7 linked regions of the Homo sapiens genome follow. The protein of the gene in region 6 purifies or fractionates together with the protein of the main gene of each other region. This does not show direct contact. Each region holds a gene or a part of one and is shown on either strand. Other genes may lie near its edges.

What was found.
Region 1: the proteins of ATF6 (region 6) and SH3TC1 purify together in Homo sapiens (affinity purification with mass spectrometry; one large-scale study listed by BioGRID and IntAct). This does not show direct contact.
Region 2: the proteins of ATF6 (region 6) and ACAA2 fractionate together in Homo sapiens (co-fractionation; one large-scale study listed by BioGRID). This does not show direct contact.
Region 3: the proteins of ATF6 (region 6) and EPHX2 fractionate together in Homo sapiens (co-fractionation; one large-scale study listed by BioGRID). This does not show direct contact.
Region 4: the proteins of ATF6 (region 6) and EIF2AK3 purify together in Homo sapiens (affinity purification with western blotting, with the first as the bait; one study listed by BioGRID). This does not show direct contact.
Region 5: the proteins of ATF6 (region 6) and LACC1 purify together in Homo sapiens (co-immunoprecipitation; one study listed by IntAct). This does not show direct contact.
Region 7: the proteins of ATF6 (region 6) and ZYG11A purify together in Homo sapiens (affinity purification with mass spectrometry; one large-scale study listed by BioGRID and IntAct). This does not show direct contact.

The regions. Positions count from the first base shown.
Region 1 is NC_000004.12:8,219,790-8,224,710, forward strand, and holds part of SH3TC1 (SH3 domain and tetratricopeptide repeat-containing protein 1), read left to right. Parts: intron 1-3,050; coding exon 3,051-3,181; intron 3,182-4,921.
Region 2 is NC_000018.10:49,792,381-49,797,301, reverse strand, and holds part of ACAA2 (3-ketoacyl-CoA thiolase, mitochondrial), read left to right. Parts: intron 1-1,420; coding exon 1,421-1,537; intron 1,538-2,874; coding exon 2,875-3,022; intron 3,023-4,921. UniProt on the Homo sapiens protein: In the production of energy from fats, this is one of the enzymes that catalyzes the last step of the mitochondrial beta-oxidation pathway, an aerobic process breaking down fatty acids into acetyl-CoA.
Region 3 is NC_000008.11:27,538,769-27,543,689, forward strand, and holds part of EPHX2 (bifunctional epoxide hydrolase 2), read left to right. Parts: intron 1-1,785; coding exon 1,786-1,888; intron 1,889-2,704; coding exon 2,705-2,774; intron 2,775-4,921. UniProt on the Homo sapiens protein: Bifunctional enzyme. The C-terminal domain has epoxide hydrolase activity and acts on epoxides (alkene oxides, oxiranes) and arene oxides. Plays a role in xenobiotic metabolism by degrading potentially toxic epoxides.
Region 4 is NC_000002.12:88,556,241-88,558,852, reverse strand, and holds the end of EIF2AK3 (eukaryotic translation initiation factor 2-alpha kinase 3 isoform 1 precursor), read left to right. Parts: intron 1-916; coding exon 917-1,117; 3' UTR 1,118-2,112; downstream 2,113-2,612. UniProt on the Homo sapiens protein: Metabolic-stress sensing protein kinase that phosphorylates the alpha subunit of eukaryotic translation initiation factor 2 (EIF2S1/eIF-2-alpha) in response to various stress, such as unfolded protein response (UPR).
Region 5 is NC_000013.11:43,889,351-43,893,035, forward strand, and holds part of LACC1 (purine nucleoside phosphorylase LACC1), read left to right. Parts: intron 1-763; coding exon 764-923; 3' UTR 924-924; exon of another isoform or gene 925-929; intron 930-2,098; coding exon of another isoform or gene 2,099-2,252; 3' UTR 2,253-3,685. UniProt on the Homo sapiens protein: Purine nucleoside enzyme that catalyzes the phosphorolysis of adenosine, guanosine and inosine nucleosides, yielding D-ribose 1-phosphate and the respective free bases, adenine, guanine and hypoxanthine.
Region 6 is NC_000001.11:161,845,716-161,850,636, forward strand, and holds part of ATF6 (cyclic AMP-dependent transcription factor ATF-6 alpha), read left to right. Parts: intron 1-733; coding exon 734-865; intron 866-4,921.
Region 7 is NC_000001.11:52,863,260-52,866,759, forward strand, and holds part of ZYG11A (protein zyg-11 homolog A), read left to right. Parts: intron 1-721; coding exon 722-898; intron 899-3,243; coding exon 3,244-3,308; intron 3,309-3,500. UniProt on the Homo sapiens protein: Probably acts as a target recruitment subunit in an E3 ubiquitin ligase complex ZYGA-CUL2-elongin BC.

The sequences.
Region 1 (4,921 bases), on a different chromosome or scaffold from region 6:
GCTACCGTGATAAGGCACTGCACGCCGGGGGCTTAAAGCAACAGAAATGTGCTTGTTCAGAGTTGTGGAGGCCAAAAGTCTAAAACCAAGGCCAGAAGGGCCACATTTTCTCTGGAGACTCTAGGGGAGGGTCCTTCTTGCCTCTTCCAGCTCCTGGTGGCCGTGGGCGTTCCTTGACCTGTGGCCACATCACTGCACTCTGCCGCCGTCTCCACGTGGCTGTCTTCCTCTGTGTGTCTTCCGTATTCTCTTCTTAAAAGGGTGCCCATCTCCTAGCACCCATCCAACTCCAATCTGACCTCATCTTAGCTGAACTAATTACATCTGCAAAGATCCTTTCTCCAAGAAAGCTTACCTTCTGAGGTTCCGGGAGACATGAATTGAGGGACACGATTTAATCCAGTACACACGTCGCTCTCCTCCGTTAAGCCCCAGGAAGCTTCTGGGCCCGACCTTGCAGGCCCCCATGGGCTGCACAGAGTACCTTGTGCCTTCCAAAACTGCTCTGGGTGACACGTGTGTCCTTCTGCCTGGGATGCCCCCTCTCCCTGAACCCCGTGTTCTCCTGGGGCCTTCCATCAGCCCCCGTGGCTCCTCTGGGGGGGGCACTCTTCTGGCCATACGCCTCTTCCTATGTGATTTACACGCCACCCATGACCTGCCTGCTCCCAGCCAGGGAACTCCAAGAGAAGAATTCCCTGGTCACTTCTGTGTTCTCACTGCCCAGTGCGAGCAGCAGCAGGGGGTCTTTGGAGAGGAGTCAGCTGTGCCCATCCTTTGATGGAATTCTGTTTCCCTGGCCTTGTCCTTGTTAAGACCTCAGTCAAGGAGCCCAGAGAATGTGGGTGCATGGAGAGGCCACCTTCTGGGTCATGTGATCCTGGTCCTGGCCCCACCAATGAGATGCTTGTCTTCAGTGGTCCTGTTCAATGTTTAGGGCTGCGACAGACCAACACCTCTCAGACCAGGTCTCAGAGGCCGTTTGTCACCATGCCTCATCAAGCCGTTCACTTGTTCCCCTCATGGAAAGGGTCCGTCTGCTCTGGTACCTCTGGCACCTGTGCATCAGAAGCAGCTGGAAGCTGGCCAGGCCATGCACTGATGGCAGGAGCTAGACCAGCAGTTCCCAAAGCATGTTCTCACACACTGCTCCATCATAGACTTCATCATGCCCTAAGGAGTGGGGAAAAGCTTTGTCCACATCCCTTGTGGGTGATCCCAGGGATTCCCAGCACAAACAAGGCATCTTTTTCCTGTTGAAATGCCTTTTCCACACTTACTTAACCTCCAGAATCCTCCACAACCCTGTTTGCTTTTGGCTGAGCTGGTGTTCCATGGGACACTCTTTGGGGATCCTTGGTCTAGCTGATCCCTACCATCTCCAAGGGAGACCACAAATTCTCAACAGGTCACTGGGGGCCGTGTGAAGTCAACATGTACTGAACTTACAAGGGGTCAGAGAAGAGCCAGGGAATGAGCTAGTTTGTTCCCTTCCTTTAACCCAGAAGGATGACGGGGCTGGGTGCCATTAGTCCTGTTCACAGCTGGAGAAATTCTGACTTCTCTCATTCACTCAACAAATGTTTGCTGAATATCTTTCCTATTCCAGACCCGGGGTTTTCATCTTTTATTTAGTGAACAACCTGGTAGCTCTTCTTTTTTTTTTTCTTTAACTTTATTTTTGACACAATTTCAGACTTAGAAGAAAGTTGCAAAAAGAGTATAACATTCCCACACGCCCTCACCCAGATTGCACAAATGTTAACATGTTATGACATTTGCTTTATTGCTTTCTCTCTTTCACTTCTATTTTTTTCTAAACACTTTGAGAGTAAGTTGCAAACATGATGTTCCTTTACCCCTAAATAATGCAGTATGTGGTTCCTAAAACCAGGACATCTGCTTACATAACTACAGTACAACTGTCGAAATCAGGAAATGAACGCAGATACAATGCCATTATCTACAGATCTTACTCAGATTTTGCCAGGAGCCACAATGATGGCCTTTGTAGACAATGACAATTTCAGACCACGTGTTCTATTCAGACGTCATGTCTTGCCTCCTTAATGTGAAACAGCTTTTCAGTCTTTTTCTGATGTTTTTAAAGAATACAGGCCTGTTATTTTGTAGAATGTGCTGTAAGCTACTCTAAGTTTTTTTAAAATCTGAATAAGATGCATTTCAAAGCTTCATATTATACTGGTAATTTAGTCCTATAAGCAAAAATTGCCTCCTTTCTCCTCCCCTCTCTCCCTCTCTCTCTGTTTCTTCCTGTAGTTCTTCTCCCTGACTTTATGAGAGTGCCCTGAGTGTATGTTGGGCACTCTGGGGAGCACTGAGGTTGTACAGAATCAGTGGGAGTTTACAATGTGGAGAGATTGGATTGGTTCTGTCTGCAGCTGTCACAGGGGACTTCATAAGGGAGGGGACATTTGGAATGGGGCTTTGAAGGCTGCCTAGGAGCTCACTGTCCTAGGACACCATTACTTGTTTGCATCTGTTTCAGCCTTTCCTGCTTCTGGGTATCTGCCCCTGGCCAGACAAGGCACCCCTTGAGGTCAGGATCTGGTTTTTTTTTTTTTTTTTTTTTTTTTTTTTTCAGACAAAGTCTTGCTCTGTCACCCAGGCTGGAGTGCAGTGGTGTGAACTCGGCTCACTGCAACCTCTTCCTCCTCTGTTCAAGTGATTCTCCTGCCTCAGCCTCCCGAACAGCTGGAATTACAGGCTCATGCCACCACGCCTGGCTAATTTTTGTATTTTTGTAGAGATGGGGGTTTCACCATGTTGGCCAGGCTGGTCTTGAACCCTTGACCTCAAGTGATCCGCCCACCTCAGCCTCCCAAAGTGCTGAGATTACAGGTGTGAGCCACCATGCCTGGACTTTTTGTTGTTGTTGTTGTTGTTTTTAAATCTCTGTCTCTACCCCTGGGCAGAGAGTAGTGCTCCGAGACTATCTGTCTGTCAAATCAAGGAATGGAAATGTGCTTAGTGTGAAATGCTGACTTTGCAAATATGTTGTTTTGAATAAAGCACTTTATTTTTTCCAGGTTGGAAAGTGCGATTTTTCTCAATGAGGAAGAAAAGTCATTCTTCAGCGAGGGCTGCTTTTCTGAGGAGGATGCCAGGCAGTTGCTGAGGCGGATGTCGGGCACCGATGTCTGCAGCGTGTACAGCCTGGGTGCGTGTGGGCGATGCCTGTGGTGGGGCCACTGCCCTCCCCTTTCCCTTCTGCAGCCCCTGCTGCCCTCGTCCATCCACAGATAGTGCCAGCCCCTGGATGCTGAAAGGTGAACAGACAGAGGCTGCCGCTGCCTCCAGGGCACATAGGGGCTGCAGACAAGCCAGACAGGAGAGAGGATGGGTGAGGAGCTGAGGGCGTGGGAATGTGGCCCCTGAGACTCCTGTGGGCACCAGGGAAGCCCTTCCTGCCCTGACCCCAGGCACCTGCCTGAGACGCTGGGCGAGGGAGAGGGTATGGGTCTGGTTCTAATTTGCCAGCCCTGAGGGCTCCTGTTTGGGGCCCAGCCCTCTGCCCACTGCACTTTGCCTGGGTGAGAGTGACTTTTCTCCTTGTCACAAGAGAAAGAACCCAGACTGTGGTGTGGCCTGGTCACCTGGCTGCCAGGGAGTGTCATGGTGGGACCCCAGGGCTGCCGTCTCCTAAGGACAGAGATAGTCCCTCTGACCTCAGTGCCCCTCTGTGTGCAAAAGCTTTCTCTGGGGGCTGCAGTGCAACGCATAGATGAAGTTGGCATGTCATCCACAACATAAAGAAACATGGCAGAGGCCGTGCTATCTGCTGGGTGTAGATAAACACAAATGTGTGGCTACACACCCACTTTTTTTTTTTTTTTTTTTGAGACAGAGTCCTGTGCTGTTGCCCAGGCTGGAGTGCAGTGGCATGATCTCGGCTCACTGCAACCTCTGCCTCCCGGGTTCAAGCGATTCTCGTGTCTCAGCCTCCCAAGTAGCTGGAACTACAGGCACGCGCCACCACACCCTGGATTAGTTTTGCATTTTTTTATACAGACAGAGTTTCGCCATGTTGGCCAGGCTGTTCTCGAACTCCTGAGCTCAGGTGATCCGCCAGCCTCAGCCTCCCAAAGTGCTGGGATTACAGCTGTGAGCCACTGTGCCCAGCATCTACACACCTACTTGTATACCTATGTGCACATGTACAAACACAGACATAAACACACAAATACGCATGTAAATACACACTGTGTGCATGCACACATGCACTCACAAGTATACACACACACACACCCACCCATGCAGACATGTGTGCACATGTGCCTGCAGAGGTGTATACACACATACACACATGTGCATGCACCTTCCTCACAAGGTGTACACGCACACGTACATACATATCCATGCACCCCCTCACACACATATGCACACACATATATAAACAGATACATTTCCACACACACTTTTTTCCTGCTTGCTCGATGACATGCATTACAAGACCTTTTCTCCCACCAGTATTAGAGTTAACATTTGTAGATCCCACAAATCAACTTCCCTTCCTGAATGGACAAACTTAGACTTGACCTCAGCATATCAAGGCTCAGACCCCCTGGATGGTATCTCCTGTCCTTTTTAGGAAGCAGGTTTGGGACCCTCCACACCGTGGGGTGTTGTGGGCAGGGGCATTGCAGGGTGCAGGTGTCATAAGTGGGGGTGTTGCAGGATGCAGGTGTTGTGAGATGGAGGCATTGCAGGGTGCTCCCCAGAACTGCACACCTGTTATCGCAGTTCACAGCGCTTGACGCTGTCCACATCTCCACATCTTTTTACAGCTATTTCTCACTTGACCTCCACGGAAACCCAGTAAGCAGTTAGTGTCAGCCACTTTACGGGGGTGAAACTGAGACCCGGTAGCTGCCTGCCCTGGGATGAAGAGGGTGGGGGT
Region 2 (4,921 bases), on a different chromosome or scaffold from region 6:
AGACCTTGGCTCCAAAAAAAAGAAAAAAAAAAAAAAGCTAATAATGAACCTGAAAGTGGAATAAGCCTGTCATAAAAGGACAAATACTGTATGTTTCTACTTCTTTGAGATACCTAGCGTAGTCAAATTCATAGAGACAGAAAGTAGAATGGTGTTCCCAGGGACTGGTGAGGGAAAGTTAGTGTTTAATGGATATGGAGTTTCAGTTTTGCAAGATGAAAAGCGTTCTGGAGATGGGTGATGGTAATGGTTGCATCACACTATGAATACACTTAAACTACTGAGCTGTATACTTAAAAATGGTTAAAATGGTAAGTATTATATATATATATATACTTCAATATTTTTAAAAGCTAGTATGTTCATCATTCTTTCGAGTGCTTCCTACATGCTAGGCACCCTGCTAGATTTACATTCAATATCTCATTTAATCTTACAACCATCCTATGAAGCAAGAACTATTATTATTATTCCCATTTTACAGGCAAGGAAACTGATTAAAGCCATTAAGGTTACTCAGTCATAGAATTTGAACCCAGGTCTGTGAGTGTTACCTGTGAGGCACTGAATAAAGACCGTGAGGCAAGCAGGAAATCTCAAGAATTTAGGAGAGGATAAGGAAATGTATTTTATTTCAAAGGAAGTGAATGATGCTGTTAGTAGAAGTACAAACTAGTTTGACCTTTTTAAAGGACAGTTGGTTAAATACATTTGTTTCTTTGAGCACAGAGAAGAAAGTGAAATCCAATTTCATTTGTAAAAGTCTTCATTTTATTACAAACAAAATAAGAGCCAGAGGCGTATTTTAATAAAACAATTTTCACATTAATTTGTTTCTATAACGATATATCTTAAATAGTGACCTCGGTTTTCCTAGTAATAATTTTAAGAACCATCAGGTTCATAGAGGCTCATTATTTGCTCCTTTTCTGAGAAAGGCAAACAGTGGAAAGTGTTGGAAGAATGAAGTGGTTTCCTTTTTATGAGTCACCTAGATTGAACTAGTTCTTGTAAATCTCTGTTCTTGTTCAGATACATCCATTAATGGGATAAATTTTTCTTTTGCCTTTTTAAAGGGTATGTCCTTTATTATCTGCTGTACATTTATGCCAGGTATTAATATCTGTTGATTTTCAAGATTTATATTGTGTTAAGAATTACTATTCTTAGCCACATGTAGGTAGGGCCTGTTACTCAGGCAAACATGATTGAAACCTTTTAGTTTTCTCCTCCTACATCTTGGTAATGGATACTTTAGCATTTGCTTTACAGTTACTTTAAAAGCATTTCCTTTTGAGACACTGTAAGCTACAGTACAATATTTGTTTGATTTACCATTAATTTGTAAAATCAGTGTGTTTCTTAATACATTGTTTGGGTACGGTAAAAGGAGTTTTTATTACTGTTTGTTTTTAAATAGGAAATTTGTGTTAAAGAAGCTGAAGTTGTTTTATGTGGAGGAACCGAAAGCATGAGCCAAGCTCCCTACTGTGTCAGAAATGTGCGTTTTGGAACCAAGCTTGGATCAGATATCAAGGTTGGAACCATAAAAATTTAAAAGAATTAGTTCTTATTAGCATTATATAAGTACTTTTAATAACATACCTTTTTATGGGAGAGAAAACTAATTTTGAAGCCAATTTCGTTGATGAGGATTGGCAAGATATGAATGATTAGAAGTTTGTAAACTATTTCAAAACTCTATTTTGGTGGTTAGTTTTGACATTTTAACCCATATGAAATTAGATTCTATCTATCTCAGCAGACCTCTAGTAGTATAATTATCCTGTGTAAGTGGCCATAGGCATGGGAGAGATGGAGGAAGGGAAGAAGTGGATTAAAAAGATAGACAAAAGAGTGAATTAATCTCACTACTAAACAATTAGTAATCTGAGTAATTAAATCTTTAACGTGACTTATAGAAGTTTTATTTCTGGGACAGTCTCAGAATAGATTTCTTCATCATCACAGAAAACATCTTTGAATACAGATTATATTGTCCCAAATCAAACAAAAACTGATTCTTTTATCTTTGAGAGCTACAACTTGAGAATGATGGTACAGTACTGATAAAGAATGATGTTTTCTTCTCATTCCCATGTGAAAGGGCTACTGACATTTTATATTTTTTAGCATTTTCTATAGTAATGTTTGACTCACACTGTTCACCCAGTTTCTCACCTGGCCTTTTTGGAAGTTGAAAGGAATGGGACTTAAGAGAATCTATGCGGATTTTAGCCACCAAACACATTTGAGATATCTTTTATGAAGACAGGTCAGTGAGTTAAATGTTGATGAGGCAGCAAAGTGGGGCACACTTACCAGAGACTAACTACTTGAATAATAATTAACAACCTTTCTGTAACTCTGGGAACCTGTCCCAAGATCTTTTCAGCCTCATAGTAACCGATAGAACCAGCTATTCCTGTCACTGAGGCGCAGGATGAAAAAGAAAAACAGATAATACTGTTTATTACAGAGCTCAGGGCTGGTTTACAAAGATGGCTATAAGAAAACATTGCATGAAGACTCATTGTCAGGTTTTCTACAAAATATGACCTTGAGGATTTAATTTTTGATCGTAGGGTAACTTCTGTGATCTCACCATGCACGTCTAGTCCTGTTAGCTGTTCTTAGACCCCCACATTTAGAGAGGGACAGAGAATGTGTGCATTTTATTTTGTGACATTGAATGTTTTCAAAAACATTGCATGTTTTTAAAAAATATCCCATAACTGAATATGAATAGTGGTTATCAGAAAGTCTTAATTTTACTTTTGTTTATTGGAAGTGTTGATTATTTAAAGAAATTATAACATATTACTTTTAAAAGGAAATGCCTTAACAAGTCACTTTATTAATGTCTTTTAATAGCTGGAAGATTCTTTATGGGTATCATTAACAGATCAGCATGTCCAGCTCCCCATGGCAATGACTGCAGAGAATCTTGCTGTAAAACACAAAATAAGCAGAGAAGAATGTGACAAATATGCCCTGCAGTCACAGCAGAGATGGAAAGCTGGTGAGTGAAACTGGAAAGTATCAGTATCTATAGAATAAATATCTATAGGAAATATTTTCATCATTTCTATTATGGTTATATAATATTTACAAATCATACCTTTAAGAATTATTACATCTTTTCATTATTCCTTTGTCTTTAGATGATCAGATATTTTATTAATTATTGCAAAATTAACTAGGAATTTCTCTTTTGAAAAAGTTAGTACTACTTAAAAAGTGGTATTGCTACTTGACCCTAGATGGACCCTTGAGTTTTGTGCTGAACTGGTCCTGTTGTCAGTAGAACATGATGAGGAATACGATACGTTCTGTCAGAGGTGATAGCTCACTGTGGCAACTGGAATATAGAGGATGTCCTCTCCCACAAGCCATATCATAATCATAAGAAGGGGTAATGTATTTGGAAAAGACCCACTGGGTCTTTTATGCTTTCCTTCTGCCACTCCTAATTAAGAATCATTGTACCTAACTCAGAGACTTAGAACTAGTCCGAGACTCTAGTTAGAGTGCCCTGGTGTAGCACAGCAGGTTGCTATAGAGCCGGTCCAAAACAGGCAAATGTGACAGCAGTTCTTTTAGCAGTGCAGCAAGTTGAAGAAATGTGATATTTAAAAAATTAAACTGTTAAAGCAAGTGGAAACTCTTATTTAGGAATATTAAATGCTTGAAGTAATGAGGATAAAGTCCATCTTAGCATTTCAGAAGGATAAGTGGAATAGAGCTGATGCCATCTAACTCGTGTGTTTTTTTACTTATATGTTCATAGTGGAAGAGGATTGGTCTAGAAGTCAAGAGTTATCAGTTCTGTTTCTACTTCTACCACGCACAAGTTATCAAGCTCAGTCATATCATTTATTCACTGAACCTCTGTAAGATAGAGATAACAATATTTGCCTTCCCTATTTATCTAATAAGGTTGTTTTAAAACCAAATAAGGGCATATAAGGAAAGTATTTTGCCAATTGTAAAGTGATATGAAAATTAAGGTTAGTATTATTCCTGACCCTATTTCCAAAGCTATAGATTACTACAGTACATTCTAGTCAGTGGAGGTCAAAGTAGGTAAGATGTTTTACTTATAATTGTATTAGTGATTGCTCCCATAATTTCTTCAGGTTGCCTATCACTATTAAGTTTCAGTTAGATTACTTTGTGGCATAGACAACTTGGTAACTTTTTAATTGCTTATCTCACCAAAAGAAGTTTAAAAGGGGTATTAAGTCCATTTATTGCCATTACATCTATAGCAAACAGACAGATGCTGCTAACAGTCTTAGCAGTACCTGGTGAAAAAAAATTGTGGTTAAAAAAATATAATTTTTAAAAATATAATTTTTAAAAGATGCAAAATGCATCTACATAAACACATGACAGTATCGTAAATCCTCCAATACGGAAGGTAAGTTGTGTAAGTAAATAGTAAAGACTCTATAATTTTTAAAAGATGCAAAATGCAACTACATAAACACATGATGGTATCGTAAATCCTCCAATACGGAAGGTAAGTTGTGTAAGTAAATAGTAAAGACTCAGGCTGAGCGTGGTGGCTCATATCTGTAATCCCAGCACTTTGGGAGGTCAAGGAGGGTGGATCACGAGGTGGTGAGTTCGAGGCTAGCATGGCCAACATGGAGAAACCCCATCTCTACTAAAAATATAAAAAAAATTAGCCGGGCATGGTGGTGGGCACCTATAATCCCAGCTACTGGGGAGGCTGAGGCAGGAGAATCACTTGAACCCGGGAGGCAGAGGTTGCAGTGAGCCGAGACTGTGCCGTTGCACTCCAGCCCAGGCGACAATGTGAGACTCCATCTCAAAAATTAATAAAGACTCAATATTAAAGTAGACTGTGAGGAAAAGGTAGATCAGAAATTAAATTGAATAATATGTTTGATTT
Region 3 (4,921 bases), on a different chromosome or scaffold from region 6:
GGGCAGAAGCCCTGAGCTCTCCAGCTCTGAACTTTAAGTTGCCCAACCAGGGTCCCCTCGGCATGCATAGGGCTGACTCTAACCCCAGGCCTGAGCACACAGCCTGGAGTTCCTACCCTCTAGGGAGCTGTGGCTTCAAGATCTTAAGCAGTAAGAGCTTGGAGGAGTCTTAGAGCTTGTCCAGGGCAAAATCCACCCTCTACTGATAAGGACCCCAGGATTGAGAGCTTACCTCTATGGGGGTCACCTCGTGTATGCAGGTGGAGTGGAGTGGGGCCCCTGCCCAGGTCTCCTCCATTGCAGTCCACTGGCCCCTCTCCATCCAGGCGCCATGTTTCCAATTCCCCCACCTGGAGCTCATCCTTGTCTCCCTCCTGGGTTGGGTATGAGTGAAGGGTCAGAGTTGAGATTTGATTTGAGCTCATCCCCATGGCCCCTAGATCCAGCACTCTTCCCACAAGACCTTATTTTTGCTGCAGCACTGTGGCCTTGACAGCATTCACTTGTATTTTTATGAATAATGATGACCACTGTCACTTGTTTGGGCACGTGCTGACCATCTGTATAAAACTCTGGACTAACCCCCTTTAGATAAAATATTTGTGATCCTCGAAGCATTCTGAAAAATGCTACTATTTTTAATTTCCAAAGAGGAAAACAGGTCTCAGAGGGTTAAGTAACTTGTCCGAAGTGGCTGAGCTGGGGTTAAACTCCTCTGACCCTGCAGGCCATGCTCTTGTCACTGCTCAAAGAACATCTTCCTTCCCTCCCCCACACCCACATTCCCTTATTCCTTCACACCGTCTGTCACTCATTCATTCACCCATTCATTCATTCCTCAAATGCTGTGAGCACAGGCTGGGTATGAAGCTGGGGCTGCATGCTCAGCTACCCAGACACACGAAGCAGGGTGGCCACCCTCAGTGAGCCCACAGTCTCACGGGAGGCAGAGCAGCTGGGATGCTCGCAGAGGGGCCCTGAGGTACAGTGAGTCTGGAGCACCCGCCTGGTGGGGAGGCTCAGGGTGGCTTCATCACAGGGTGACATCCTCATCACATACCCCTTTGATGTGTCTCACAAAAGCCTGGAATGACCAGTTCCTGTGCCTCCGGGTCTTCGTGAATCTGAAAATGCCGACGGGCCCTGTTCAGGCACCAGCATTGAGGCTGTGCCCTGTGAAATTGCAGTGGTCCCTGGGCTGCCAGGGGTCATCACAGGCCATCCTCTGGAGGGACTGTGCAGCACCCTGAAGACAAGAGAGGGGTCCACAGTGGGATACCACAGAGGGTCTGTGCGGCACGTGGGAGGTGACAGGATGCAGCCACCTGGCCTGGGTTCTCTTCCTGCCTTAGAGGAAAAACGGAGCAAATCCTTATGAAAATTCCAAGAATCTCTGGCGATATCTCCAAAGGGCCACAGTTAAGCTGGCTGGGAAAGGTTTAGACGAGGGGAGAGCAGGAGCTGGGGGCTGGCAGGGTCTGGGATATAGCTGCTGTGTGCCTGAAAAAGCCGGCAACTGTGGTTGGTCCAGGAGCTGTGATAATAGCCCGTGAAGTCGTGGCTAGGTGGGAGGGAACATCAGGCTCCAGTGTGACCGTGAGATCACAGCTTTGAGCTTTCGAGGAGATGGGATCACTCTGGCAAAGGATAAGGGAACAAAAGATGGAGGCACTCATAAGGCCTTGCGCAAGTTCAGATGGTCTGCGAGAGGCAATGAGGTCCCCACCTTAAAATGCAGACACCTGGCCCGGGGATGGGAAAGTCAACAAGTGGCTTTTTTTGCAGGAGGACTTTTTGTAAATAGCCCAGAAGAGCCCAGCCTCAGCAGGATGGTCACTGAGGAGGAAATCCAGTTCTATGTGCAGCAGTTCAAGAAGTCTGGTTTCAGGTAAAGAGAGCACAGGGCCCAGACACAGATGAGAGATGATCGACAGATAGGGATCTTCAGCCCTCAGGGTGGAGGGTGAGGCCCAGTTCTCCTCCACCACAGCCCTCGTTAGTGCCAGGCCAGCCTCTGCTTCAATGCCTCCAGTGTCGGGAGGCTCACTACTTTATGGTGCTCAGCCTGCTCTAGTTTGGGATAGCTCAGCTTGTTCTTCCTTATGCTTATGGGGCCCCCATAGGGCAGAGGGTTTTCACTACTTTTTAGTCATGGCTCCTCAGAGAATCAGATGGCAACTCTGGGCTCTTTCTTCAGAAAAACATAAAAATCCACATAAACTCAAAAAGTGCATACATTTTGGTGCATTTGCCCTACTTCCTGATGTCATATTAGGAGGGGGCATCTTTGCTCCACCTCCCAATGTCCCTCTCAAGTGGGCTCCCTGGGGCAGGCGAGTGGCCTCTGGATGGTGAGGCTGCTAAACCAAGTTCCCCACCATCAGCAACCTCCCCAGCCTCCAAGGTGACACGATGACATTCCCTGGAGGGTCCTGTAGGGCCGGCTTCTTTGTGTCCCAAAAGCCAACCTAGAGGCTGCCAGTTCACTCAGTGGAGTCCTGTGTCCTTGCACAAGGCCTTGCTGCTAGAGCTTGGCAACTGCGCCCGACAGCAAGGCGTGGGTCCTGGGCTCTATTCTCTTGCCCCTGCAGGAGGCTTTGCTCTTCCCAGGACGACTGGCTGTGCAGAGCAGGTTTCTGCTGGTGTCTGTAGCAGAGCCGTCTACTTACTGCCTCCCTCTTTTTACTTTCTGATCTCTCCCCAGAGGTCCTCTAAACTGGTACCGAAACATGGAAAGGAACTGGAAGTGGGCTTGCAAAAGCTTGGGACGGAAGGTGAGTGCCAGGTTCAGTGTAGTCTCATCCACACCCCAGGACCCGCCCGCGGGGCTTCCCATTGGCCTGAGCTGATATGACCTGGGCCAGAGCTGGTTGTGGACAGATCTGCTGGCCACCTCCTTTCCCTTTGGGGTTTGGGAAGTGACTCCCTTCAGGGGTTTCCCTAGGATCTTTCTTGCTGGTGCTTCTCTTGGGATGGTAGAGGGTGACCTTGGGGATGGAGCTGGGGTGTGTCCAGGGAACTGCAGCATCCATCCGGAATCCCCAGGTCCCCTGGTGGTACCCCAAGGCAGGGCTGCAGATGGCCTGGGGCACCTCCCAGAAGTGACATGGATACTGGAGCCCCCAGCCCAGAGGAGCGTTAGGTGCTCTCAGAGATGTGACTTTAGCCTTCGGTTGTGTCACCTTGCACAAGTCAATCTCTGAGTCTCAGTTTCCTCATTTGTCAAGCAGAAGATGAGTTTCCAATCTCTGGGTCTGCAGAAGGAGTAATGGAGGTTCCCAGTTTACATTCAAAATGTTTAAAAATCTAAGGGAAATCTGTTCCCCAGTGTGACTGCACAGGTAGCTAGGCCTTCATCAGCTCACTCAGTAGCCATGGTTACCTTGTTGGTTCACTCTGTAAGTGAACACACTGCTACATGCCAGACTTCCTGCCAGACCCTGGGATACCATGGTGTGTAAACAGACCAGGTCTTGACCTCCCAAAATTAAGTCTTGAGGCACTAGAGTATATAACATCGTGGTTAAGAGCAGGCTAGGAAGCACATGGGCTGAGTCTAATCCCTGTGTGACCCTGGGAAAGGTACTTAACCCCTCTGATCCACTGTGGCTTCTTCTGCAATATGCAAGTGGCAAGAACAGTGCCTCCCTCACAGAGCTGTGTAAGGATGAAATGGTTGAAGGCATGTGACCTGTTACAAGCAGTACTGGGAACCTATTAGCTCCATTAGTGTTCCTTGTCATTATCATCATATGACCGATGAAAATGACCAAACTGCAGTTGGACAGACAAAATCTCTCAAAGCGTGGAGGAAAATATTGACAAAGGCGCTGGGAAGGTGAATCCCAATGGTGCTAAGGTCAGAAACCCTCCTCTTCTGCAGTTTATTTTTTGAGACAGTCTTGCTCAGTTGCCCAGGCTAGAATGCAATGGCACGATCTCGGTTCACTGCAACCTCTGCCCCCTGGGTTCAAGCAATTCTCCTGCCTCAGCCTCCCAAGCAGCTGGAATTACAGGAGTGCGCCACCACACCCAGCGAATTTTTTGTGTTTTAGTAGAGATGGGGCTTCACCATGTTGCGCAGGGTGGTCTCAAACTCCTGAGCTCAGGCGATCCACCCACCTCGGCCTCCCAAAGTGCTGGGATGACAGGCGTGAGCCACTGCACCCAGCCTCTCTTCTGCAGTTTCCAGCTGGATCTTCCTCTCTCCTCCCCCACCTCCTCCCATCCCATCCTCTCCCCCCCCCGCCCCCCGCCCAGTTCACATTTTAGCTTGGAACTTTCTAGAGTTTACAAACCTCATAGAAGCCTCAGGATTCGTTTTAGCCACAAAATCATTTTTGACCTTCTCCTGGCTCCTGGTTGTGGGAGGAGGGAGGGGTGTGGAGAGATGCCCATCACTCTGGGTGTAAATGAAAATAGTGCACGTTCCTCAACCAGGGATGGGTCAAAGCTGCTTGGAAATTAGGGTAATGGTGGAGCGAGAACAAAGGAAAAAACACAGAGGCTTTCCTGGCCTTCCTGTGCATGCCTCCCTGTGTTCAACTCATTTGCCAGCAATTGGAAGTTACTTTGCTGCCATTCATGTCACATTGATTACTACTGTGGCTGCCCCCATTTTCTCTGGAACCTTGGTCGCCCCTTTTAAGCATCTATTTAATTCAGGGAAGAGGAATCTTGATCTTCATTCAAGGGTGTCTTCTGCCTTCTTGGTGCCATCAATTCGGTTCTCCCAGTTACATGCAGCTCAGCACACGTTCTCACTCACACACATCTGCACACATAAGACCCATATTGGCCTCTGCACTGCTGAAGCTGTTATTTTAAAGATCTCCAGTAATAACCACGAGTCTGTTGTGCAAAGTTCGGCAGATACAACGTCAGGACCACAGCAGGGTGGCGAGCAGGGGTCTTTCAGAGG
Region 4 (2,612 bases), on a different chromosome or scaffold from region 6:
AGTCGACTCAGTTTCCCCTATTTTACAGATGAGGAAGCCAAAGGTCTAGAGAGGAAAGAGACCTGCTCCCAAGAGCCCAGAATTTGTTAAAACCAAACACTGGAGCTGGGGCCTGGCTCCTTCAGCCTAATGTCCAGTGTTCCACACTGTAGCACCTGTGAAATTTATATATTGATAAATCTTGAATTTCCTTAAGTAATTAAGTTGAAGTGAGTTAGTATGTGTTCATTTTCAAATTGGAAAAAGTCAAAATTTATCTTTCAGTATTATAATGAAGGGTTGCATTAAAAAATGGACTTTATAACAATATATTAATACCTACATATACTTAAGTCTGTTTTACTAAAAATTGTCATCATGTATTTTGCAAACTTGATGAATCTATTCCCAGGGTGGCTCATAAGAGTACATGTTACGTTCAAAGAGATTTTTAAAAACCAAGAAAAGGTGTTGGTTGCTGATCTCTGCCATAATTTTTTCTAATTAAAATTTCTATTGAGATAATTGTAGATTTACATGCAATTATAAGATGATTTTTAAAAATCATATTTATGTTTCAGGGATGTGATTAAATAATCCTTTATAATGTGTTAGAAAATCAAATTACCCAAAAATTGTCCATGTTTTTTTGGAATGAGGGTTGGCAAACTAGTGCCCACAGGTCAAATCCAGCCTGCCACCTATTTTTATAATAAAGTTCTATTGGAACACAGCCATGCCCATTAATTTACAAATTGTCTCTGGATGCTTTTGTGCATTGACGGCAGAGCTGAGTAGTTGTATCAGAGACTTGAAAACTCGAATATGGCTCAAAAGCTTAAAATATGTACAGAAATATTTTGCCAGCACTGATTTTAAAAACTGTACAGTGATCAAACCTGGCCGTTTTATCACAAAACAATTTTTATATTTTCAGTACGTGATGGTTCAAGACATGCTCTCTCCATCCCCCATGGAACGACCTGAAGCTATAAACATCATTGAAAATGCTGTATTTGAGGACTTGGACTTTCCAGGAAAAACAGTGCTCAGACAGAGGTCTCGCTCCTTGAGTTCATCGGGAACAAAACATTCAAGACAGTCCAACAACTCCCATAGCCCTTTGCCAAGCAATTAGCCTTAAGTTGTGCTAGCAACCCTAATAGGTGATGCAGATAATAGCCTACTTCTTAGAATATGCCTGTCCAAAATTGCAGACTTGAAAAGTTTGTTCTTCGCTCAATTTTTTTGTGGACTACTTTTTTTATATCAAATTTAAGCTGGATTTGGGGGCATAACCTAATTTGAGCCAACTCCTGAGTTTTGCTATACTTAAGGAAAGGGCTATCTTTGTTCTTTGTTAGTCTCTTGAAACTGGCTGCTGGCCAAGCTTTATAGCCCTCACCATTTGCCTAAGGAGGTAGCAGCAATCCCTAATATATATATATAGTGAGAACTAAAATGGATATATTTTTATAATGCAGAAGAAGGAAAGTCCCCCTGTGTGGTAACTGTATTGTTCTAGAAATATGCTTTCTAGAGATATGATGATTTTGAAACTGATTTCTAGAAAAAGCTGACTCCATTTTTGTCCCTGGCGGGTAAATTAGGAATCTGCACTATTTTGGAGGACAAGTAGCACAAACTGTATAACGGTTTATGTCCGTAGTTTTATAGTCCTATTTGTAGCATTCAATAGCTTTATTCCTTAGATGGTTCTAGGGTGGGTTTACAGCTTTTTGTACTTTTACCTCCAATAAAGGGAAAATGAAGCTTTTTATGTAAATTGGTTGAAAGGTCTAGTTTTGGGAGGAAAAAAGCCGTAGTAAGAAATGGATCATATATATTACAACTAACTTCTTCAACTATGGACTTTTTAAGCCTAATGAAATCTTAAGTGTCTTATATGTAATCCTGTAGGTTGGTACTTCCCCCAAACTGATTATAGGTAACAGTTTAATCATCTCACTTGCTAACATGTTTTTATTTTTCACTGTAAATATGTTTATGTTTTATTTATAAAAATTCTGAAATCAATCCATTTGGGTTGGTGGTGTACAGAACACACTTAAGTGTGTTAACTTGTGACTTCTTTCAAGTCTAAATGATTTAATAAAACTTTTTTTAAATTAAGTATGTTGACTCTTATTTTGAGGAGTTAGTCCCAAAATGGTAGATTTTCTAATTTATAAAATGGGATCATAGATCTAGGAAGAGTCATAAACCTATCCTCAAAAAAACTTCTTCCTAACCCATTTCAGACAGGTATCTTTTTCATCATTTCCCAAAGACTTGGCAGGCCCTTTCAAAATTCACAAGATCCATAATTGACAGACATTTGCCCAGTACCTACCCTGTGCCAAGGACTGAGAATATAGAGGACTTTCCCCTAAAGGGAGAGCTCTCAGAGAAAAGGGCTGTGGTGATGCTAGTTGTATTGATACCGAGGTGTATCTGACATGTGCCACATCGAGGCATGTGGCAGGCTGGGCTGATGGGGCATGAACCAGCTAGACACAATCTAGAAAGGTCAAAATGCATAGCATCTCCATATTACAAACAAATAATGTCTGCCACGCAAGGTTATGAGCAACTTGTACGCTGGAAAAACACTTCCCAGATCTTTGTGGCTG
Region 5 (3,685 bases), on a different chromosome or scaffold from region 6:
ATTATTCTTATTATCTAATTAACTAGAGGAATATGTTTTTTAGAAAAAATATTAGATAATATAAATACACGGTTTTTTACTTTTAAGTTTTTTACAGTTCTTCGCATCTTTTAATTTACAAGGTTTTGTTATTAATAACTGGTGAAAATTATTTGTCATTACTACAAAGGCAAATTAATGTATGTTTTAAATCATGTTTCTATTCCAGTCGCCAAAACTTTACCCAGAGTCTGCCTCATTTAGTACAGATGTGGAAAAGTTTGAAATTGATTCTTAAATGTGACTTTTAAAATCAAGTATCACTAACTTGTAGTCATATTTCATATCATAAAGTGTTCATGGAGAAGCAAGTTTTCTGAGAAAAATCTGGCTAATAGAAGGAAAGGAGATGAAGGGCCAGATGACTAAAAAGCATACTCTGGCTGAGCCAGGTGAATTTTGCCTGATATCCTGGTAACTTTTGTAGACATTTCTTCTTAAATAAGCACTTGATTTTGATTATAAAATTCTGTACCTAGATTATGTCTATAAGACAATATGGAAGGTTGTACTGTGCATATATGAACTTAGGTGATAAATGCTGATAAAGTGTAGCATTTTTTTCCCTGACTAGTCCATGTTCTGTAAGTGAATAACAATATACATTGTTCTAGGTACATCTTTCCTGGAACTTTTTCATGCCAACATCCATACTTTTTTTCATATTGCTTTGGCTATTGGGAAAATAAACTCTTGCTCTCTTTTGAAAAATATTTTTCCTAAGGATTCTTCTAGAACAGGGAGGAATTCTTCCACAGAATATTCAGGACCAGAACCAAGATCTCAACCTCTGTACATCTTGCCATCCTGACAAGTTTTTCTCCCATGTCCGAGATGGCCTTAATTTTGGTACACAGATTGGCTTCATATCAATTAAAGAATGAGGTACAGTAGGTTTTCTCTCCTCTCTCCGTTTTTCCTCTCTTTCATCCCTCTCTCCACTTCTCCCTCCCTTTCTCTTTCTTCCTCTTTTAGCCTATTCCTCCCCTTATTTAAAAAAAAAAAGTTAATTATGTTAAACTTTACTCCTTTATTCCTACAGGGAGAATGATGTTTCTACTTTTTTAGTGATGTAATAGTGGTAGCAACGTTCATTTCCAATAACACTCTATTATGAAGAGCAGCCACTCCTTTTCCTAGTTAATGAAGAATAATTAGGCAGGCTTATGTTAAAAGTATAAAAATAAAACAATTTAATCTTTAAAAAGGTATGTAAGTATTTCCTTTCTCTCTACTATGTACTTGATATCTGTACATTCCCTATCCTCACATCCTTATAACTTTCATGTTATTTTTGAAAACAAATCTTTGCATAAACATTCTGAATTCTAGAATCATAAGAAATTCTCACAAAGAAACTAGCTTGATTTTCAACTAGATTTCCAAATGATTATCTGCAGTTGGAGTTGCCCAAATTTTTATTTTAAAATGACAGTAAGTAGTTTAGACTTTGTGGGACATACAGTATATCTCAGCTACTCAGCTTCGCCATTGTAGAGGTAGAGCAACAAGAGATACTGACAACATAGAGATGAATGAATATGTCCGTGTTCCAATAAAACTTTGTTTACAAAAATCAGGCGAGGGAGCCAGGCACAGTGGCCCTGCTCCTGTAGTCCCAGCTCCTCGGGAGGCTGAGGTGGGAGGACTGCTTTAGGCCAGGAGTTTGAGTACAGCATGGATAACATAAACCCTGTCTGTAAACAGTAAAATAAACAGGTAAGGGGCCAGATTTGGCCTATAGGCTATAGTACACTGACACATGATCTAAAGTCATACAGCAAGACTGAGTGTAATTTTCTTAAAATAGTATTTATTAGAGATGGTTTTGTTGGAATTATACAAAAATATTTCATGGCACTGATTTAGCACTGCCCCTATAAGATATGTGTAATTTTCCCTAAGGTTACTTCTAGCTGAATTAATATTATTTTTTACTCTTTACAATGTTTTTAGCTCTTTAACTTACAGAAAAACTTTAATAGACTTCATGACTCTTACCTTGATATTCTAATAACACCAGTAAGCGTCTCATATTTGATTTCTATGTATTTTACAGATACTTGACTGGATTTTTGTATAACTGCTTCCTGCCTCCTTCCAAACTGACTGCAAGAGAGAAATTTAGCTGTTTGATTTACTTAAAACCAAATGGATTACAATGGATAATTCATCTTTTGGGTATATTTTTACTATTATTCAAAGCCAAATGATTTTCATTTAATTGTAATAATAACTGACAAAAATCAGTATGTTGTAGCTAATATGTTTTATGCATGAGAATTATTCTTAAAGTTTGTTCTCCCTGTTTATTACACAGATCAGGAATAGATTTGTTCAGTTCAGTATTTATTGGATACCCTCTATTGGTCAGGCATTGTGTTAAGCATATGTGAATCAAAATGAACACAACTTTTTCCTTTGAGTCTGATACAGTGAAGGAGATAAACACTTCTACAACTTAAATTTAATTTTAATAGCAGTAGAAGAGAACATAAGGAATAGAGGTTAATTTTACCCAGAAGCAGGATAGAGAAAATATTACAGAGAAAATCACATATCACATGGGCTCGAAAGATGTAGAGGTTTTTGACAAATGAAGAACAACCATAACAGGTAGAGGGAACACCATGAACCAGGGCATGAAACTGAAAGTGCATAACATATTCTAGAGAGAGAAGGGTGTGGGCATGAGTTAGGGCTGGAAAAACAGGTTGGAAACAGATAAGTAAGGGTCTCAAATGCAATGTCAAAGAGCTTGCAGTTTATTTTCCAGGCAATGAGTAGGCAGCCAAAAAAAAAAAAGTAAGGATGTTTTTTTTTTTTTTCCCATGGCATCATATTTAAGAGGATGGATTTAAATTGTGTGAGACCAAAGCATAGAGACTAGATAAGAGGCGATCAAAATATTTCAAAAAGAAATAATGAAGATCCAATGAAGGAAGTGGAAATTAAAATAGGGAAGAGAGTAGATGGATTAGAGAGACATTTAAGAGATGGAATCAATAGATCCTGTTACTAGATAATGGAAGTAAGAGGTGAGGAAGAGTGGAAAAGTCATTAATGACTCTAAGATTTCTGCTTGGCTGCTTACCAAGATTGGCAACAAAGGGAGGGAGAAGGTTTGGAAAAAGAGAGAAGGATAATGAGTTTGACTTTACATAGAATGAAGGGCATCCAGATAGAAATCTTTGGTTAATAATTAGAAATATAGACCTAGAAATTAGGAGGAAACCTGAGACAGAGACAAATATTTCAAAGCTTACAATACAGAGATGATACCTGATTCTATTGGAGCAGGTTTGATCATCTAGGCAGAAATTAGGATGAGAAAAAAGGAGATCCAATAATACAACCTTATAGTCACAGAAGTAAGAAAAAAAGGGTAGTTGTTTTGAAGAAGCCAGGATAGGTGTGGAAAGTACTCAAAAAGAAATCTTCAGGGATAAAATAAAGTGATAATTTAAAAGAAATCAATGGATTAAACATATTGAAACTGTTCTATAGGCAGTGGTCATTGAGTCAGCTTTCAGTGCATTAGGAAGAAGATGCATAGGTGTCAACTCTTTTCTGACAGCATTTACTAGAGAAGAGAAAAAGCTGGGGACTACATCTTCAAGGAAGGGACTTTTTTTGGATGAGCAGT
Region 6 (4,921 bases):
CAGTGAGCTGTGATTGTGCCACTGCACTCCAGCCTGGGTGACAGAGTGAGACCCTGTCTCAAAAAAAAAAAAAAAAAAAAGTTAAGTAGGCAGTATTTGCTTATATGTATATATTTTGTTGTTTTCTCCAAATGCTTATGCCTCTGAAGAGGATATACATTGATGAGTGAAGATATTAGGGAGGGTAGGGAGAAAGAATAGAAGTTTTTACATATAAATACAAATAGAAGTATTTAAAAAATTTTTTTTTCTTAGCTTTATCTGATAGCCTGCCTTCTGGAATTGTGAAAGGCTAACAATGAATTTGACTTTTATTCCTACTTCATTTGAAGTATTCTCTCATTGAAAACACCAGTTTGCACCATCCAGGAGGCCTTCTTATTTCAGTTATTATTGGAGTTTAAAATTTGTTTTTAGGTGTGTCGTATTTATTTCTACTTCATATATACATGTAATTATCAAGTTTTTAAAACATATAGAACACTACTATTGTTTAAACAGTTTATAAATAAGGTACTTTTATACTTAGAAAAATTGTTTTTGATATGTGCAGGTTACCATGCTAAGGATTTGAACACCTTCAGTACCCTATTTGTACTTGCGTCTATGCCTAGCATTTTTGTTACGTGCATGGATCTGCAAAGGAATTGTGGTTTGTTTCACAGCTGCATGTAGCAGGCATATGTGTGACATATTTTTATTTCAGCTATTATTTCCTGTTTTTTATTTTCAGCATGTTGGAACAGGATTCCAGGAGAATGAACCCTAGTGTGAGCCCTGCAAATCAAAGGAGGCACCTTCTAGGATTTTCTGCTAAAGAGGCACAGGACACATCAGATGGTATTATCCAGAAAAACAGCTACAGGTAAGATGGCATGCATCTATCTTTTGGCCTAAGTGATTTAATGAAGCTGAAACAAGAGAATTATCTGTAGTATAACATTGCATCTAAATTGTTCGTGTATATTTTGAGTAGTAGAACACATAAATTACTGAAACCATTAATACATTTTACTTTTAATATTGTAAAATTAAATTTACTTTGAAACCTTTTGTAGTTTTAAAATTCCTATAGAGATGTAATCTTAAAATCTCAGTTTGTGTGCATTAATATACATATTGAAATATATACATATTATATATAATGTCTTTAATAATTATTTTATCTATCATGTGTTTATACATATAATACATCTAATATTTGTTACTGTCTCACCTGTGGATGGATATGATATGGTGGAATAACATGATTGAACCTATTTGCAGTCATTAGGTAAAATCATTTATACTCATTTATTGTGATCTTTGTTGAATCCCTCCCTTGTTGCAATTTAATAATGACTTGATAAATTTCCATATTGCTTGTCAATAGCAAAAGGCTTTAATTGTATAAAAATGCAATTTCTATATTATGTTAACTAGAAGAAGGTATAGTGGACATTTTTATAGTTGTATACTTTTTGATAAACATTTCCCTGTGTTATTTAGAATTTGTATTAGAGCCAAATGGAGCCAGGTCCTTGACTAACAAGGCAAAGGGAGGTCACAGTATGGTAACTATTGCACAGTATAATGCTTGAAAATTATTACAGATTTGTTTACTTTTATCTCTTTAAGGATTTGTAGGTTGAGGGCAATCTTTCTTCCTGATTTTTACTGTGTTACATCCATACTGTTGAAAGATGATCACCACAATCCTGCAGGCTTGTCTCCACTTAGCCTTCCTGAAAAAACTGTTATTTTTGTGGAGTACAGTATGCCAAGTCAGTGGAGGACCCAAAGGATTTTATGGCAGTAGCTGCAACGCAACATAGCAATGATAGATGTCATAATGTTGGAAAACATAGCATTTCCTGCTTTTTTACATGCCAAAATTCATCATACTTCTTAAAATATTCACCTTGATGATCTCTTAACGGTGCCCCTGAATATTGGTAGAGTTTAATAGTATATTTAATTTTCATAAGTAATTTGTGCAGGTTTGCCCTACGTGTTCTATAATTTTGAATTCTGTTAGTGTCCACATAAGATCCATCAAAAATTAAATTTAAATCTAATAGCCTTTGGATTTACGAGAGTTGAGATAGCGTCTTGCTAAAGAATAGAACAAGTTATGGATTGAATGCTTGAAATTACAGTTCAGGTAAGCTTTACAAGAATATTATTTATTCTGCACTAACTGCAGCAAGTAGAAGCCTTCCACATTAGCATAAGATAACATGGTGGCTCCCAGAAAGCATAGTAGTCTGATCATACTAGTTCAAACTAAAAGTCTGAATGACTTTCTGGCTGAAATTTATCAGCTTTCAGAGTAGTACATGGGATGCAAGCTATTTTTTCCCTCCCTTCTCCAAAGTCACCATTGAGTGAATAATCTGGGTTACTGGTCTTGGGGAAAAAAAAAAACCAAAAAACAACCCAGGAAAGATTATGGATTCTTGATTCCATGCAAGTCCTTTGAAATATTTTTCAGCAACTTGAGAGATTTAAATAAATGTCAGTCCATTAATTTGATGTTCTTGATTTTATCAGTATAAATACTGAATAAAAGATACCAAAAAATGTTTGTGAAACATTTGAAAGCACCTAATATTACTTTGTTCTGTGTTCTGAACTGAATTTTAGATGTTTTATCTATTTTCAGCCGTGATACCTATACATTTTTTTTAATGCAGCTTACTTTATGTTTCTTTTTCTAAGGAGAGCTATGAGACATGGTTCAAATAAAAAATGAGTAGATTCTAATCCCATAGTTTATAATATTGTATTAGCCTATCATTTAGTAATTAACTGCTTATATTTTTTCAGTCATAGAAATGTGTGGCATATAAATAGTATGACCATATAATGTTCTATCAAACTGGGACACTCTTAAGAAGGAAAGGTAGTGCTAGTAATAATTACATCAGAATACCAGTACTGCTGTCTTGGATAAATGAGAAAGGATGGTCACCCTATATAAGATGTCACCCAGAACTGATCTTTACTCCAAGAATTCTCATTAACTCTAGCTCCCTAGCACTGTCCTTTACTTTATTTACTTTAATGATTTATTTGTTGAATTTTTTTCTCTTGGCATAAAATGTTTGCAAGCAGACTCGAACTCTGACTGTTCCTGGGCTAATGTTGGTCTAATTGTCTCCAGATTGTATGTTGGCTGATTTTCTCTCTCCTTTAACTCCACCCAATCCTTGTCCTGGTATTTCTCCTATCAGACTTTTTTTTTTTTTTTCCAAAGAATATTTTTGGCTGATAGAACAAAGCCAGTTAGCACAGATGTGCAGAAATCATTACTAGAGTTCAGATCACAAATATATTTTCAAAAGCAGTTTTGGACTTTTCTCATGGACTACAGTGTTTGTATTTTTCTAAGTATGCAGGCATGATTTTTAAAATAATGCGTATGTCATAGATTTATAAGAAGAGGTGTTAAGCAGCCTCCTCTTAGAGGCATTCAGATTTATCAAACACAAGACAGATACTTTTTTTCCTTCTCACTCAATGCTTCATTTTAGGCTGATCCTTTTGTGTTTGCATTCATTACCTGTGCACCAACATGTCTGTTTTATTCCAAACAACTTAAACCTACTTAACCCTTACAGCCACAAGAGAGGACATTGAGAATATTCCTGGTGCAAGTTGCAGGGAAGAATGTTCTATATATCCTCTGCTATTGTTTCTTTTCTCTCGTGTGTGGCATAAATAGCTATCTCTAACTTTTAACTTGAAGTTAGCCTTCCACTCTGCCAGAGTTATTTCTGTTAAGGGGCCAGTGCTTTCTGCCATCTTACTTGCCCTTTCCTCAGCATTTGGCTGTGTGGGTCATTTGCTCCTTGAAAGACTTTCCTTTTGTGTTACTATGGTTTTTTAGTTTCCTTTTTTTATTGGCTGCTGCTTCACAGTAATCTTTGTGGGCTCTTTTTTTACCCAACTCTCAAGGTTTGGAACTGTAAACTTTTTTTATTTTCTTTCTGCCTAGGTGACTCATCTATAATTTCATGCACAGTTCATATCTATATGTCCTGATGACTCTCAAATTTATGTTTTCAGTCCAGACTTCTCTTCTGAGTCTCCAGAGTCACATATCCAATAGTCTCTTTGACATCTCTGTTTTAACATTTCAAACTTAACATGTGCACTGTGGAACTCAGTTCCTCTCCCTGTTTTACTTCCAACCAATTTTCTACAACTGTGTTTTTTCCTTTCCATTGCTTAAGCCAGAAATCCTGATTCCTGTCTTTCAACAAGTGTTGTTGATACTCTTCCCCAAAATTGTCTTGAATTGGTCCACTCCTCTCCGTCTCTGCTGCCACAAACCTAGTCCATGCCATCATCAGTTCTTGCCAGGATTGCCATAGCTCTTTCCTAATCAGTGTCTCAGCTTCCCCTTTTGCCTCCATTGAGTCCATTTTTGGTACCATGGCAAGGTATGAATGTAAATTGAAATATATCACTTCTTTATTTGAAACACTTTTATGACTTCTTATTACATTTAGTAATTCCTTATTATGACCTGGTCTTTTATTATGACCTTATTATGATTCCTTTCCAGCCTCATCCTGTTCCCTCTCTACCTCCCCACTTGCTTGCAACTCTTCAGCCAGTGGTCTTTTTAAAGTTCTTTGAGCCCACCTTTCCCCCACCTGCCTCTTTTATGCCTAGAATGCTCTTACCCCAGTTTCTATAGAGGCGGCGTCTTCTCATCATTTAGGCCTTGATGTAACTACCATCTCCTTCTCGGACCATTTTATCTAAAGTATATACTACCATTGCTTTTCCATTTCAACCATTTGTTTGTTTCTTTCATAGCACTTACTAGAGTTCGGATTATTTTATGCATTTATTTTCTTCTATTTGGTCCATCTTCCCCATTAAGGTCTTTGGGGACAGAAACTTTGATTCTCTCATTCCCTACTGGATT
Region 7 (3,500 bases), about 110 Mb from region 6:
TTTACATTTGTGTTCTAGGTCTTCCACAGTGTAGCTTCAAGTTACCTAATGTTTTGTTTTACCATTTTTCAAATTCTTCTCCTCTGTTGGTGGATTTATCCCATCCTTTTTTTCCACTTTCTGTTTTTCTTTATCACTTTCTTTCCCCTAGGAATACCCTGTCCATTCTGCCCCTACATTTATCTCCTCCTGTGTAAATCCTGAGACTCTGCCTAAATGTGCTCTCTCAATGAGTTCTTCTGATTCTCTCCCAGAAATGGCCACTCTTTCCATAACTACCTCAGATGTCACTTCATTGATGCGTCTTTTATGGTGCTTTTCTTCAATTTTATTTTTTGGCATTTCTCACAGTGTTATTACTGTCACAAGGCTTTATGCTAACGAGTAGCTCTCACTCATGTTTGTGTCCCCTGCAGTACCTGTCACAGTAGCTTGTATGGAGTGAGGCTCAATAAATGATTCTGAAGTTAATTTCACAGATAAAGAAATAGAGGTCTAGAGAAAGGAAGTGACTTGGCCAAAGTCACACAGATAGTTAGTGACTCCATTTGGATTAGAAGGCTTTGCTGTAATACTTTGATGTTCTAAAGAATAAATGCTTAGGATAGGGAAAATCTGTTCCTGTCCCAATAAACGAAGATTTGTGCCAATCAAAACATGCACAAGACAGCATAGAGAATGTTACTGGCATCATATGCACTAAAAACAAGTTCATCTTCAGCTTGTGGCTATAGGAATGAGGAATCACCCATTGGATTTGCGAGTGCAGTTCACAGCCAGTGCTTGCGCTCTCAACCTAACACGCCAGGGCCTGGCCAAGGGGATGCCTGTTCGCCTGTTGTCAGAGGTCACCTGTCTACTTTTCAAGGCTCTGAAAAATTTCCCCCATTACCAGCAGGTAATTTCAATTGAATATTTGTTTGTGCTTTTTTTGTTGTTGTTAATAGTCTCAGCTCTGTTGCCCAGGCCAGAGTGCCGTGGCACAATTTGTTTTTGTTTTTTTAAAGACAGAGTCTCTCTCTGTCGCCCAGGCTGGAGTGCGGTGGCACGATCTCAGCTCACTGTAACCTCTGCCTCCCGGGTTCAAGCAATTCTCCTGCTTCAGCCTCCTGAGTAGCTGGGATTACAGGCGTGCACCACGACGCCCAGCTAATTTTTGTATTTTTAGTAGAGACGGGGTTTCACCATGTTGGTCAGGCTGGTCTCGAACTCCTGGCCTCATGAGCCATGGCATACGGCAGACAATTTGTGTTTTCTAACTTTAGGATAAATATGTGAAAAATAGATATTATTTAGTTCTGGTTTTTCATCCTATTAGAGAAAGAGAATAGATAAAAGAGTGTGTTTGTTATAGAAAAAATAGGAAATATAGATAAGCAGTGAGGCTAAAATTTTCTTTTTTTTGAGAGATTTTCCTTCTTGTTGCCCAGGGTGGAGTGCAGTGGTATGATCTCGGCTCACCGCAACCTCCGCCTCCTGGGTTCGTGCCATTCTCCTACCTCAGCCTCCCGAGTATCTTAGACTACAGGCGCTCGCCACCATGCCTGGCTAATTTTTTTTTTTTTTGTATTTTTAGTAGAGATGGGTTTCACCGTGTTAGCCAGGATGGTCTCGATCTCCTGACCTCATGATCTGCCCACCTTGGTGTCCCAAAATTCTGGGATTACAGACGTGAGCCCCCGCGCCTGGCCTACACTCATTTTTATTTTTATTATTTTTTTTGAGACGGAGTCATTCTGTTGCCGAGGCTAGAGTGCAGTAGCACGATCTTGGCTCACTGCAACCTCTGCCTCCTGCCTCAGCCTCCTGAGTAGCTGGGATTACAGGCGCATGCCACCATGCCTGGTTGATTTTGTATTTTTAGTATAGATGTGGTTTCACCATGTTGGCCAGGGTGGTCTCGAACTCCTGAACTCAGGTGATCCACTGCCTTGGCCTCCCAAAGTGCTGGGATTACAGGAGGGAGCCACCATGCCTGGCTCCCTCCCCCACAACACACATTTTTAAAATGAAAAGGTAGATGATAGACTGGGAAACATGTTCATTATATATATATGAGAATCAACTTCATTCAGAGTATATAAAGAACTCAACTTGTTAATACAGTACAAATCAGTTATAAAAATGATCAAAAGATTTGAACACTTTGGTAGTTTCTTTAGGAATTAAATATACACTTCATAAACTACCTAGTCATTCCACTCCTAGGTATTTACTGAAGATAAATGAAAGCATGTATCCATATAAAGATATTTACACAAATATTCATGGTACCTTTATTTATTGCCAAAAACTTGAAACATCCCAAATGTCCAACAACAGGCGAATAGAAGCATTGTAATAAATCTATTTAGGGAAACACTACTTGGCACACAGAGATGAAGTACTGATATCTGCAGTGTAGATGAAACTCAAAAATGTTATATGTTGAGCAAAACAGGCCAAACTCAAAAGAGCAGAAGTACATGATTCCATTTGCATAACACCTTAAAAAAACTAATCTATAATGACTGTAATTTTCCGAGGATAGGGTTTACAGGGTTGAGACTAACTTGAAGAGGGGACAATGGAACTCTCTGGGGGTGATAGAAGTATTATATCTTGATTGTAGGAGTGGTTACACAGGGGTATAAATTTGTGAAATCTAATACAAATGTGTACTTTGTAAAGGGAGTTTTTTTTTTTTTTTTTTTTTTGAGATGGAGTCTCGCTCTGTCGCCCAGGCTGGAGTGCAGTGGCACAATCTTGGCTCACTGCAAGCTCCGCCTCCCGGGTTCATGCCATTCTCCTGCCTCAGCCTCCCGAGTAGCTGGGACTACAGGCACCCACCACCACGCCCGGCTAATTTTTTGTATTTTTAGTAGAGACGGGGTTTCACTGTGCTAGCCAGGTTGGTCTCGATCTCCTGACCTCGTGATCCGCCTGCCTCTGCCTCCCAAAGTGCTGGGATTACAGGCATGAGCCACCGCACCCGGCCAAGGGAGTTGATTTTTTAAAAATACAGTTAGGAAGGTGGTTTTCCTCATTTATTTCTACCTTATTTTTAAAGTTGGAAAATCCTACTCAAGTCTTCATTCCTGCATGGCAGTCATCAGTTACAGCATTAAATGAAAATTTAATGCTGGTACACAAATGAGCTCTCAATAAGAAAAGCTCACTAGTAATACTTCCAAATACATGGAATCTTTGTTTAGAATGGAATGTTACATTTGTTCAAAATTATTTTTCTTTATTCTCTAAAAGTTACAGAAGAATTGTCTTCTCTCCTTAACCAATTCCAGGATTCTTGTGGATGTTCCATTTGACAGGCAAGTATAAGACTTGGTCATTTGACTGGGGTGTTGGCCTTTGGTTATTAAATGCAGAGGCCTGATTAAGGCTGGGATAAGGTGTTTGGAGAGAAGGTTCTGTTGAGCATCTTCCACAGAGAAGTGATTAGAAGTACCCTACTAGAAAATGTTGTCTCCTAAAGTGATTCTAGTATAGGATAGTGGGTAAGA